Regions from separate parts of the Homo sapiens genome. Here region 2 is linked to region 1. The links come from fine-mapping of genetic effects on plasma protein levels. A gene starts in region 1. The other region holds a variant in brackets. All regions are shown on one strand. Distances are from middle to middle.

Evidence for each region. PIP is the chance, under the fine-mapping model, that this variant and not a neighbour inherited with it causes the effect. Protein levels are from the aptamer-based SomaScan assay of Sun 2018.
Region 2: its variant is fine-mapped to the plasma level of the SLAMF7 protein (Sun 2018, PIP 0.95).

Annotation. Positions count from the first base shown.
Region 1 is chr1:160,736,361-160,741,743 of GRCh38, forward strand. It overlaps SLAMF7 (SLAM family member 7), which reads left to right and starts at 2,887. Exons shown (of 7, transcript NM_021181.5): 1 at 2,887-2,996. The coding sequence starts at 2,942. It overlaps LOC124904440 (a long non-coding RNA gene), which reads right to left and starts at 2,799. Exons shown (of 2, transcript XR_007066687.1): 1 at 2,723-2,799.
Region 2 is chr1:160,751,163-160,756,545 of GRCh38, forward strand. SLAMF7 (SLAM family member 7) reads left to right here. Exons shown (of 7, transcript NM_021181.5): 5 at 183-286; 6 at 1,024-1,086; 7 at 1,944-3,659. The coding sequence ends at 2,015. Among named protein-coding and RNA genes, the nearest start is that of SLAMF7, 15 kb to the left of the region's middle. RefSeq lists a silencer at 601-660 and an enhancer at 4,330-4,379. The variant T/G (reference allele first, on the strand shown) is at 2,496.

The DNA.
Region 1 (5,383 bases):
AAGGGAAATTTTAGAATTGAATAATACAATGACTGAAAGGTAAAACTAATTGAATGAGTTTAATGAGCTTAATAGCAAAATGGAGGCCAGGGCCAGTGGCTCATACTGGCAATCCCAGCACTTGGGGAGGCCAAGGTGGGCGGATCACCTGAGGTCAAGAGTACAAGACCAGCCTGGCCAACATGGCAAAACTCTGTCGCTACCAAAATATAAAAATTAGCCAGGTGTGGTGGCGGGTGCCAGTAATCCCAGCTACTTAGGAGGCTGAGGCAGGAGAATCGCTTGAGCCCAGGAGACAGAGGTTGCAGTGAGCTGAGATCGTGCACTCCAGCCTGGGCAACAGAGTGAGACTCTGTCTCAGAAAAAATAAAAAAATAAAAAATTGCAAAATGGAGATGAAAAAGGAAAGAATCAGTGTACTTGAAGATAAACAATAGAAAATACCCAATCTGAAAACAGAGTGAAAATAGGCCAAAAAAAAAAAAAAAAAAAAAAAAAAATGGAGCCTCAGAGCCCTGTGGGAGAAAAACAAAAGATTTATAACATTCATGTCATCAGAATTTTAGGAGAGAAGCGAGAATGTGAGGCTGAAAAAAAAGTATTCAAAAAATAATGAAATTTCCCCAAACTTAGCAAAAGGTAAAAACCTACAGATTCAAGAGACTCAATGAATCACAAATAAGAGAAACCCAAAGAAATTCACACCAAGACACATTATAATCACACTTCTGAAAACTAAAGACAAACAAAAAACTTTTAAAACAGCTAGAGAAAAATGACACATTACCTACAGGGAAAACAACTTAAATGACGGCTGATTTCTCACTGGAAACCATGGAGGGGAGGAGTGTCATGACACTTTTCAAGTGTTGAAAGAAAAAAAACTGTCAACCTAGAATTTTATACCCAGGAATGAGGGTTAAATCAAGACATTCTCAGGTGAAGGAAAACTAAGATAATTTGTTATCAGCAGGCTTATCATAAAAGAATTCCTAAAGAATATCTTGAAACAGAAAGAAATGATTAAAGAAGAAAACTTGAAGGCTGGGTGTGGTGGCTCATACCTGTAATCCCAGCACTTTGGGAGGCCAAAGTTGGTGGATCACCTGAGGTCAGGAGTTTGAGACTAGCCTGGCCAACATGGCGAAACCTGATCTCTACTAAAAGTACAAAAAGTAGGTGGGCATGGTGGCATGAGCCTGTAGTCCCAGCTACTCAGGAGGCTGAGGCAGGAGAATCGCTTGAACCCAGGAGGCGGAGATTGCAGTGAGCCAAGATCATGCCACTACACTCCAGCCTGTATGACAGAGCAAGACTTCGTCCAAAAAAAAATAAAAAGAAGGAAACTTGAAACATTAGAAATAAAGAAATAACAATGAAAAGAGTTAAAATATGGGTAAATGTAATGGATTGTCCTTCTCCTCTTGAGTGTTCTGAATTATGTTCAACAATTGAAGCAAAACTTATAATCTTACCGATATGGTTCTCAATGAATATAGACAATATATTTAAGACAAGTATAAAGATAGACTAATAAAGAAACCTAATATAGGTAAGTTTTCTATACCTAGTTCAACTGGTAAAATGTCAACACTGATAGGTAGATCAAAAGTTATGTATGTAAAATGCAATATGTACAGCAACCAGTAAAAAAACTCTTCAAAAAGATACATTATAGATAAATCAAAATGGAATTATAAAAAATATTCCAGTAACACACAGGATGGCCAGGAAAGTGAAACAGAGGAACAAAATAAACAAACAAAAGCCCAGAAGAACAAAGAGAAAATAATAACATGGCAAACTTAAGCTCTGATATATAAATAATTACATTATGTAAGTCAGTTAAATAGAATAGATAGCTCCAGAATATACCCACACAAGTATAAGTGCTGATTTTTGATAAAGATACAAAAGTAATTCAATGTAGGAAAGATCATCTTTTCCATCACATGGTAGTAGAACAATTGAACACCCACAGGCAGAAGAAAAAAAAACACGCACATTGTAATCATACTTCTGAAAACCAAAGGCAAACAAAAAACTTTTAAAACAGCTAGAGAAAAATGACACATTACCTATAGGGAAAACAATTTAAATGATGGCTGATTTCTCACTGGAAACCATGGAGGGGAGGAGTGTCATGACACTTTTCAAGTGTCGAAAGCAAAAAAAAACTGTCAACCATATTACCTGATATGGTTCTCAATGAATATAGACAATATATTTAGGTGAATCTCAACCTAAACTTCACACCTTACATTAAAACAGGATCATACATTTAAATGTAAAACATAAAACTATAAAACTTTCAGGAGAAAACCTTTGGACCCTAGTGTGGGTAGAAAAAAAACTGATAAGTTGAATTTCATCAAAATTAAAATTTTTGCTCTGCCAAAGACCCCGTTAAGAAGATGAAAAGACAGGCTACAGACCAAGAGAAAATATTTGTAAACCACATATCTGACAAATGACTCTTATACTTGGAACATATAAGGAATTGTCAAAGCTCAACAGTAAAAAAAATAAAGAATCTGATTATAAAATGGACAAAAGACATAAATAGACATTTCACCAAGGAGGATATGGATATATAGATGGCAAATAAGCACATGAAAAGATGTTCAACATTATTAGGCTTTAGGGAAATGCAAATTAAAGCCACAATGAGGTATCACTACAGCACCTATTAAAACAGCTAAAATATAAAATGGGAATATACCAAATGCTGATGAAGATGGGGAGCAAATAGATCTCTCATAGATTGCTGGTGGCAAGGTAAAATGCTCTATTCACTCTGAAAATAATTTAGCAATTACTCAATCTCACATGTCTGCGGCGTGACCCCTCCTGCTTCTTTAAATATCAGCTGGGGAAGAGGTCTGAGTAATACCTAAGAGGGAAGTGGCTTCATTTCAGTGGCTGACTTCCAGAGAGCAATATGGCTGGTTCCCCAACATGCCTCACCCTCATCTATATCCTTTGGCAGCTCACAGGTGAGTCCGGCCGGATTCTCTTCCACTCTCCTGTCTACCCCATCCTGAATAGTTCCAGGTTTCTTGTTCCACTCTGGGCCTCTGGCTCAACTCGGGAGGCTCTGTGTTCTCATCTAACATTTGCTTTTTATCAATCTCTGATCTCTGATTCTCAGGTCAGGAAGAGACTAGAGAGAGGGGGAAAAATGGCTCTGGGAACTGACTCCCCTGTTGACTGTCCCAGGGATGAAGGAGCTGAAAGAAGTGGTGCTGGGTATCAGAGACCATTTTTCTAATCCAGGTTCTGCCATGAGTTAGATAAGGAATGTTAAAGTTTTCCTGGGCCTCAGAAACTTTATCTTCTAGCCTTCTCTCCTTTTGAGGGCAACTTTAAGAACAAGATGATACTATACAGGTATGTATTTATTTACTTATAAATGTATTTATAAAATTGGTTATGCATAACAGTAATATAAATGGAAAGAATCACTTGAATTTTCTTTCCTTACTCAAGCAATGTAATCAGTCTCTACTTAGAGAACCAACTCATACCATAGGCACTTTATGTTTAATCCCATGGAGGACAGAGGACAGTTCTCCACCTGTCACTGGTATTCTAGTCTTTGAAGATTTTTCTATCCTAAGGGCTCTCAGAAAGGATCAGGAGCCCTATAAGTGAGAAATATCTCTTCTGTCATCAATCTCATGGAGTACTACCATGAGGTCCCCCTATAAGGACTTCACATAACTGCTTCATTATGTGTATCTGAGCCTGCCTGGAGTGATCTGCCCAAGACCACGCAGGCAGCTGGTGCCCCCAATATTTTCCCCTGCATCGCTAAGTGGTCAGCATCAGCAGACTCTTACCCACTTTGAATTCATCAGAAGTTTGTATTTTTGAGAGGTACCTGGGTCTAACCAGGTGGTTCTGGAATAGGCCCTCACTTTAAAAAAAAAAAACAAAAAAAAAACTCCCTGAACGGAAATGATGAGCAGAAATAGAACTTGAGGGAGATAAGGTGGAGGGGTTGGGGAAAATTATAGAGACTTTGAAAGCTACAGGTGTCCATCTGAAATCAGTCAGCGAAAGAGCACAAGTATGAAAAACTGCCATGCAGGTCCCCCTCTGCCCTCCTCCAGAGGCAGCCTGTGTAGTGTACCTCCTGAGGCTGAAAGGAGACAGAGATTGTCCTGGAACTTCCAGTGGGCAGGGCAGTGGAACAAATCCTGGCACTGGACAAGCGCATCCTTGGTTTGACTTAGTAGCTGTATTATTGTAGGCAAATTACTCTTCCCTTCTGAGCCTTGCTCTTCTCAGGTGTGTAACAGAGAATGAAATCTAAGTTGCAGAATTATTGTGACATTTTAAATGACATATCAAATGCAAAATAATTATTAAAATAATCACCATTTATTAAGTTACTACATCGCAGGTGTTTTTCATACCACCTCCTCATGAGTCTGTAAGACAGATATCATTATCCCTGTTTTACAGTTGAGGAAACTTAGGCTCAGCAGAGAGATCACGCTTCTTGGGCAAGATAACACAGCATTTATAAGGTAGCCAGAGATTGAGTTTAGAAAGCTAGAAAGCTAGTGCTCTTTTAATCATAACAAGCCGTCTATCACTGGACCTGGCACCAAAGAGATGCTCACTACATGTGCATTTGAGCTGAATCTTCCTCAGGGAGTACCAGTTGGGGTTTCTTCCCTCTCCAGGTACATAAATCTGAGGTAGAAACTGGAAAGGCCCGAGAAGAACGGGTAGCTCTGTTTCTGGGATATGGGTGTACCAACAGGGGGCCACCCTGGCTAAACTCAGAGGGTCCATGAAGCAGTTCTCATGGCCTCAGTATTCTCATCTGAAAAATGGGCACAGTAATCTGCCAATGATTTGATGATACAGTAGTGTCAAGGAGACAATCAATAAAAAGAAAACAAAAAAGTGGGTGAGGGGAATTGGGAGAGTGTTGAAAAGAACCAGAAGAAACAAGGAAGAGGGGGCAGGAGATGAGTGAGGAGCAGAGTGGTGAGCAACCTAAATGTGAATGTGGTCGGTTAGGGCTAGAGTGATGGGAAAGGTGTGTGGTGAAGCGGGAAACTTTCAAGCCTCTGTCTGTGGCTGCCTTGTGTGGCATTGAATTACACTGCTCTTTCGTGAGTACATTCGTTAAGGGGGACTTGAGTAAAGTGCAATAGATTTCAAACCACTTTGGGTTTTTTTTGCCTTTTTTTTTAAATCCATGGTTTCCTTTTATGGAATGAAATTTTACACAGAAAAAAACAAATAAATGACTCCAATGTATAGAGTTGAAGCCTAACGGAAGCAAGTCCCATAGCCTCCTATCCTACGCTCACCCCTTAAACCTCCTCCTGAGCTCCCAAGAAATACACTGAGGCACTGCCAC
Region 2 (5,383 bases), 15 kb after region 1:
CCTGATTTGTTTAGATTTTCCCAGTTTTAACACTGAAAGTCCTCTATCCTGAAAACCCTTCCATTACAAGGAAACTCGGCTGGTTGGTCACCCTAAGTGGGTCATCCAGGAGAAATGGTGGGCCAGTGGAAGTGGTGAGTGGTTGGAGAGGTGGCTTTGATTCTCTCCCAACTTGCTTTTAGAGTACATTGAAGAGAAGAAGAGAGTGGACATTTGTCGGGAAACTCCTAACATATGCCCCCATTCTGGAGAGAACACAGAGTACGACACAATCCCTCACACTAATGTGAGTCCCTTCTCATCTTTCCTGAGAACTGATCCTGTCTCTGAGGCTCTCCTTGTGAGGTTTTTCCATGGGTTTGGACAACATGGGAATGAAGAGGGGAGTGAGGATATATAGACTTAAAACTCAATGCACCTGTGCCTCCTCCAAGTCTTCATGGATTCTCTTCTGTGCAGAAGAAGCTGGTGGTCTCTGGAGCACCTGGTTCTGACTCACAATGCTCATGCTGTGGTCTGTGAAATCACCTGCTCCCCTCCACAGTTCATAACGGCCACACAAAAGGCCAGATTCCTTTTGCATAAGGCAGTGGGTAGAAGAGTGTGACTTTGACAGGATGTTTGAATCATGGTATCAGAAGACTTCTCTAGAGATCTCTCTCTCTCTCTCTCTCTCTCTCTCTCTCTCTCTCTCTCTCTCTATATATATATATATATATATATATATATATATATATATACACACACATATATATATAATATTTTTGAAATTCATTTTAACACAGTACAGTTTAAAAATAATGTAATGGCTTCCTGAAAAAAGTTATCAAAATTTATTATAATAGCAGTCACCAACAAGAGAACTTCCTACCTCCCTTCCCTGTTCCAGAACCCTCCTTTTCCTCTCACATCTCCTCCCATCTCTGCTTTCCCCTCTCTGGATTCTGAATGTCTCTCTGGCCTTGTCTATGTGATTCAGGAGGTGGGTGATGATTTCTTTTGTTTGTTGTTTGTTTTTAAAAGAGAACAATCCTAAAGGAAGATCCAGCAAATACGGTTTACTCCACTGTGGAAATACCGAAAAAGGTAAGAAGCTTTAGAGCTTAACTTCATCTTAATGGTTCCATTTCTTTTCCTGCTTCATGTTTAGGTCAAAATTTCTTGGACCCAGGTATCTCATACTCTCTAGAATTAAAAAGTACCCTAGTAGTTCCCCATTCCCTTTGCTTAGGGTTATACAAGAACATGGGGGATGGAAGAGAATTGTGTTTTAGGAATCGAATTGGGTAATCTGGAACAAATAGAGTAGGACAGAGGTTCTAGATCGGAATAATAAAGAAAATCAAAAGCCTTCTGACTGAAGTTGCAGACAAGGAAAAAGACCATGGCTTAGATTGTGCATGGAATGAAGAGAGGAATAGCTGAGAGGAGAGTCCAGCTTTCTCCTGAGACACCAGGAAACTGCAGGAGGGAGAGATCTCTACTTTTCTCCCATGGTCCAGCTATGTTACATCTGCTTTGCACCCTCCCCTCAGTTAAACTACTAATGCAGTAGCTTTAAGGCTTATTCCTTCACAGAGTACGGTTGGCAGCAGTAATGGTATCTTTCTGTCTCCTTTTTCTTCCTCTCCCAAACAGATCCAAAAAGATAAGAATCATTAAAGCAGTTTGCTTAGTAATAGAAAAGGTTGGTTTAGTGAATTATTACAACTGAACAAGGAAAGTTCAGTTCATTAAGCATTCAGCAAGATAAATATGCGTTAAACTTACAGAATAGTTTCTCTAAGCTAGGGGTGATTAAAATCAAACAGTGGGAGCCAGCATGCCAGCCGATTTGGGTTGGGTAACCTTGGAAATAAAGTTTCCTGGATGTCAGGGTCTCCATGGACGATCCAGAGCCCTGCTCACCTCCCTCACTCTACTTTCTTTTTGTCTGTCTTCAGATGGAAAATCCCCACTCACTGCTCACGATGCCAGACACACCAAGGCTATTTGCCTATGAGAATGTTATCTAGACAGCAGTGCACTCCCCTAAGTCTCTGCTCAAAAAAAAAACAATTCTCGGCCCAAAGAAAACAATCAGAAGAATTCACTGATTTGACTAGAAACATCAAGGAAGAATGAAGAACGTTGACTTTTTTCCAGGATAAATTATCTCTGATGCTTCTTTAGATTTAAGAGTTCATAATTCCATCCACTGCTGAGAAATCTCCTCAAACCCAGAAGGTTTAATCACTTCATCCCAAAAATGGGATTGTGAATGTCAGCAAACCATAAAAAAAGTGCTTAGAAGTATTCCTATAAAAATGTAAATGCAAGGTCACACATATTAATGACAGCCTGTTGTATTAATGATGGCTCCAGGTCAGTGTCTGGAGTTTCATTCCATCCCAGGGCTTGGATGTCAGGATTATACCAAGAGTCTTGCTACCAGGAGGGCAAGAAGACCAAAACAGACAGACAAGTCCAGCAGAAGCAGATGCACCTGACAAAAA[T/G]GGATGTATTAATTGGCTCTATAAACTATGTGCCCAGCACTATGCTGAGCTTACACTAATTGGTCAGACATGCTGTCTGCCCTCATGAAATTGGCTCCAAATGAATGAACTACTTTCATGAGCAGTTGTAGCAGGCCTGACCACAGATTCCCAGAGGGCCAGGTGTGGATCCACAGGACTTGAAGGTCAAAGTTCACAAAGATGAAGAATCAGGGTAGCTGACCATGTTTGGCAGATACTATAATGGAGACACAGAAGTGTGCATGGCCCAAGGACAAGGACCTCCAGCCAGGCTTCATTTATGCACTTGTGCTGCAAAAGAAAAGTCTAGGTTTTAAGGCTGTGCCAGAACCCATCCCAATAAAGAGACCGAGTCTGAAGTCACATTGTAAATCTAGTGTAGGAGACTTGGAGTCAGGCAGTGAGACTGGTGGGGCACGGGGGGCAGTGGGTACTTGTAAACCTTTAAAGATGGTTAATTCATTCAATAGATATTTATTAAGAACCTATGCGGCCCGGCATGGTGGCTCACACCTGTAATCCCAGCACTTTGGGAGGCCAAGGTGGGTGGGTCATCTGAGGTCAGGAGTTCAAGACCAGCCTGGCCAACATGGTGAAACCCCATCTCTACTAAAGATACAAAAATTTGCTGAGCGTGGTGGTGTGCACCTGTAATCCCAGCTACTCGAGAGGCCAAGGCATGAGAATCGCTTGAACCTGGGAGGTGGAGGTTGCAGTGAGCTGAGATGGCACCACTGCACTCCGGCCTAGGCAACGAGAGCAAAACTCCAATACAAACAAACAAACAAACACCTGTGCTAGGTCAGTCTGGCACGTAAGATGAACATCCCTACCAATACAGAGCTCACCATCTCTTATACTTAAGTGAAAAACATGGGGAAGGGGAAAGGGGAATGGCTGCTTTTGATATGTTCCCTGACACATATCTTGAATGGAGACCTCCCTACCAAGTGATGAAAGTGTTGAAAAACTTAATAACAAATGCTTGTTGGGCAAGAATGGGATTGAGGATTATCTTCTCTCAGAAAGGCATTGTGAAGGAATTGAGCCAGATCTCTCTCCCTACTGCAAAACCCTATTGTAGTAAAAAAGTCTTCTTTACTATCTTAATAAAACAGATATTGTGAGATTCACATACAAAAAGATGCATTATTTTGCTATTTGCAATAGTGAAATTCTGGAAACTGCCAAAGAAACTGACCACCACAGGTGAAGGTCTGTTCATACATAGACATTAAGAATTATGGGTTAGGCCGGGAGCAGTGGCTCACGCCTGTAATCCCAGCACTTTGGGAGGCCGAGGCAGGTGGATTACTTGAGGTCAGGAGTTCAAGAACAGCCTGGCCAACATGATGAAACCCCGTCTCTACTAAAAATACAAAAAATATTAGCCGGGCATGGTGGTGAGCCCCTGTAATCCCAGCTTCTTGGGAGGCAGAGGGAGGAGAATTGCTTGAACCCAGGACGGGGAGGTTGCAGTGAGCCAAGATCGCGCCACTGCACTCCAGCCTAGGCGACAGAGCAAGACTCCATCTCAAAAAAAGAATTATGGGTTATACTCAGCATCATGAAATATACCTGTGTAACCTACACATGTAGCTTCTGAATCAAAAATAAAATTAAAAATAACAAATTTTTAGCATGTGCCTGTGGTCCCAGCTACTTGGGAGGCTGAGGCAGGAGGATCTCTTGAACCCGGGAGGTGGAGGTTGCAGTGAGCCGAGATCGCACCACTGCACTCCAGCCTGGATGATAGAGTGAGATTCTGTCTCAAAAAAAAAAAAAAATTGTTTAAAAAAAACTATGGGTTGGCCAGGAGTGGTGGCTCATGTCGGTAATCCCAGCACTTTGGGAGGCTGAAGTAGGAGGATCACTTGACCTCAGGAGTTCAAGACCACCCTAGGCAACTTAGCAAAGCCCCATCTCTACAAAAAAATACAAAAATTAGCCAGGCATGGTGGTGCATGCCTGTAGTCCCAGCTACTCAGGAAGGAGCTGAAGAGGGAGGGTCGCTTGAGCCTGGTAGGTTGAGGCTGCAGTGAGCTATAATTGTGCTACTGCACTCCAGCCTGGGCAACAGAGTGAGACTCTGACTCACAAAACAACAACAACACAACAACTATGGGTTTTCAAGTTAGAAAATGTTATGACATCACAAATATAAAAAGTAGAATGCAAATTTAATGTGCTATATGATTACAGCTGTGTTTTAGAAAAAATCTCTACAGGGAAAAATTTGGAAGAAAAAACATCAAAATAGTAACACCAGTTGTTTAGGGAGGGTGAAAGCTTAGGTGGCTTGGTTTTTTCCTATTTTCATTCATTTTCTGAATATTCCTCAATGAGAAAGTATGTATTGCATAATAGAGTAGAGGAAATTTTAAATAGGTGCTCAGTGAGAAAAACGAGGCACTACTCACTACGTGGGGTTGAGGGGAAAGTCTGAGACCCTCATGGTAAGGGTGTGGGGGAGGATGGAAAGACCTCCTCGAGTGAGAATGGGTGGGGAGAAAGGAGAAACCCTCCACATAATGACAGAGGAGAAGATGACTTTCCCTCAGAGAGGGCTGCTGGAGGCTGAGGGGAGCTTCACAGTGTGTGAAGACAGAGGCGTGGAGAGGGGGATGCTGGGACTGAGGATGCATCTGTTCTGCCTTCCCCTCTCTCCTCAGAACCCATTCAGATGATAAATAATTAGGGTTAATCATACTTTGGGGTTTTTTAAACCAGTGACTGAAACAGGACCTAGGGAGACCAATAGATCTGGTCTCTGGACACTCAATAAATTCTGTCCCAAAGCTAGTTGCAGAAAGAAGCTTCCCCTCATGAGTTCAACCAGTAGGCAAAGGAAACCACCAGCTCTTCAG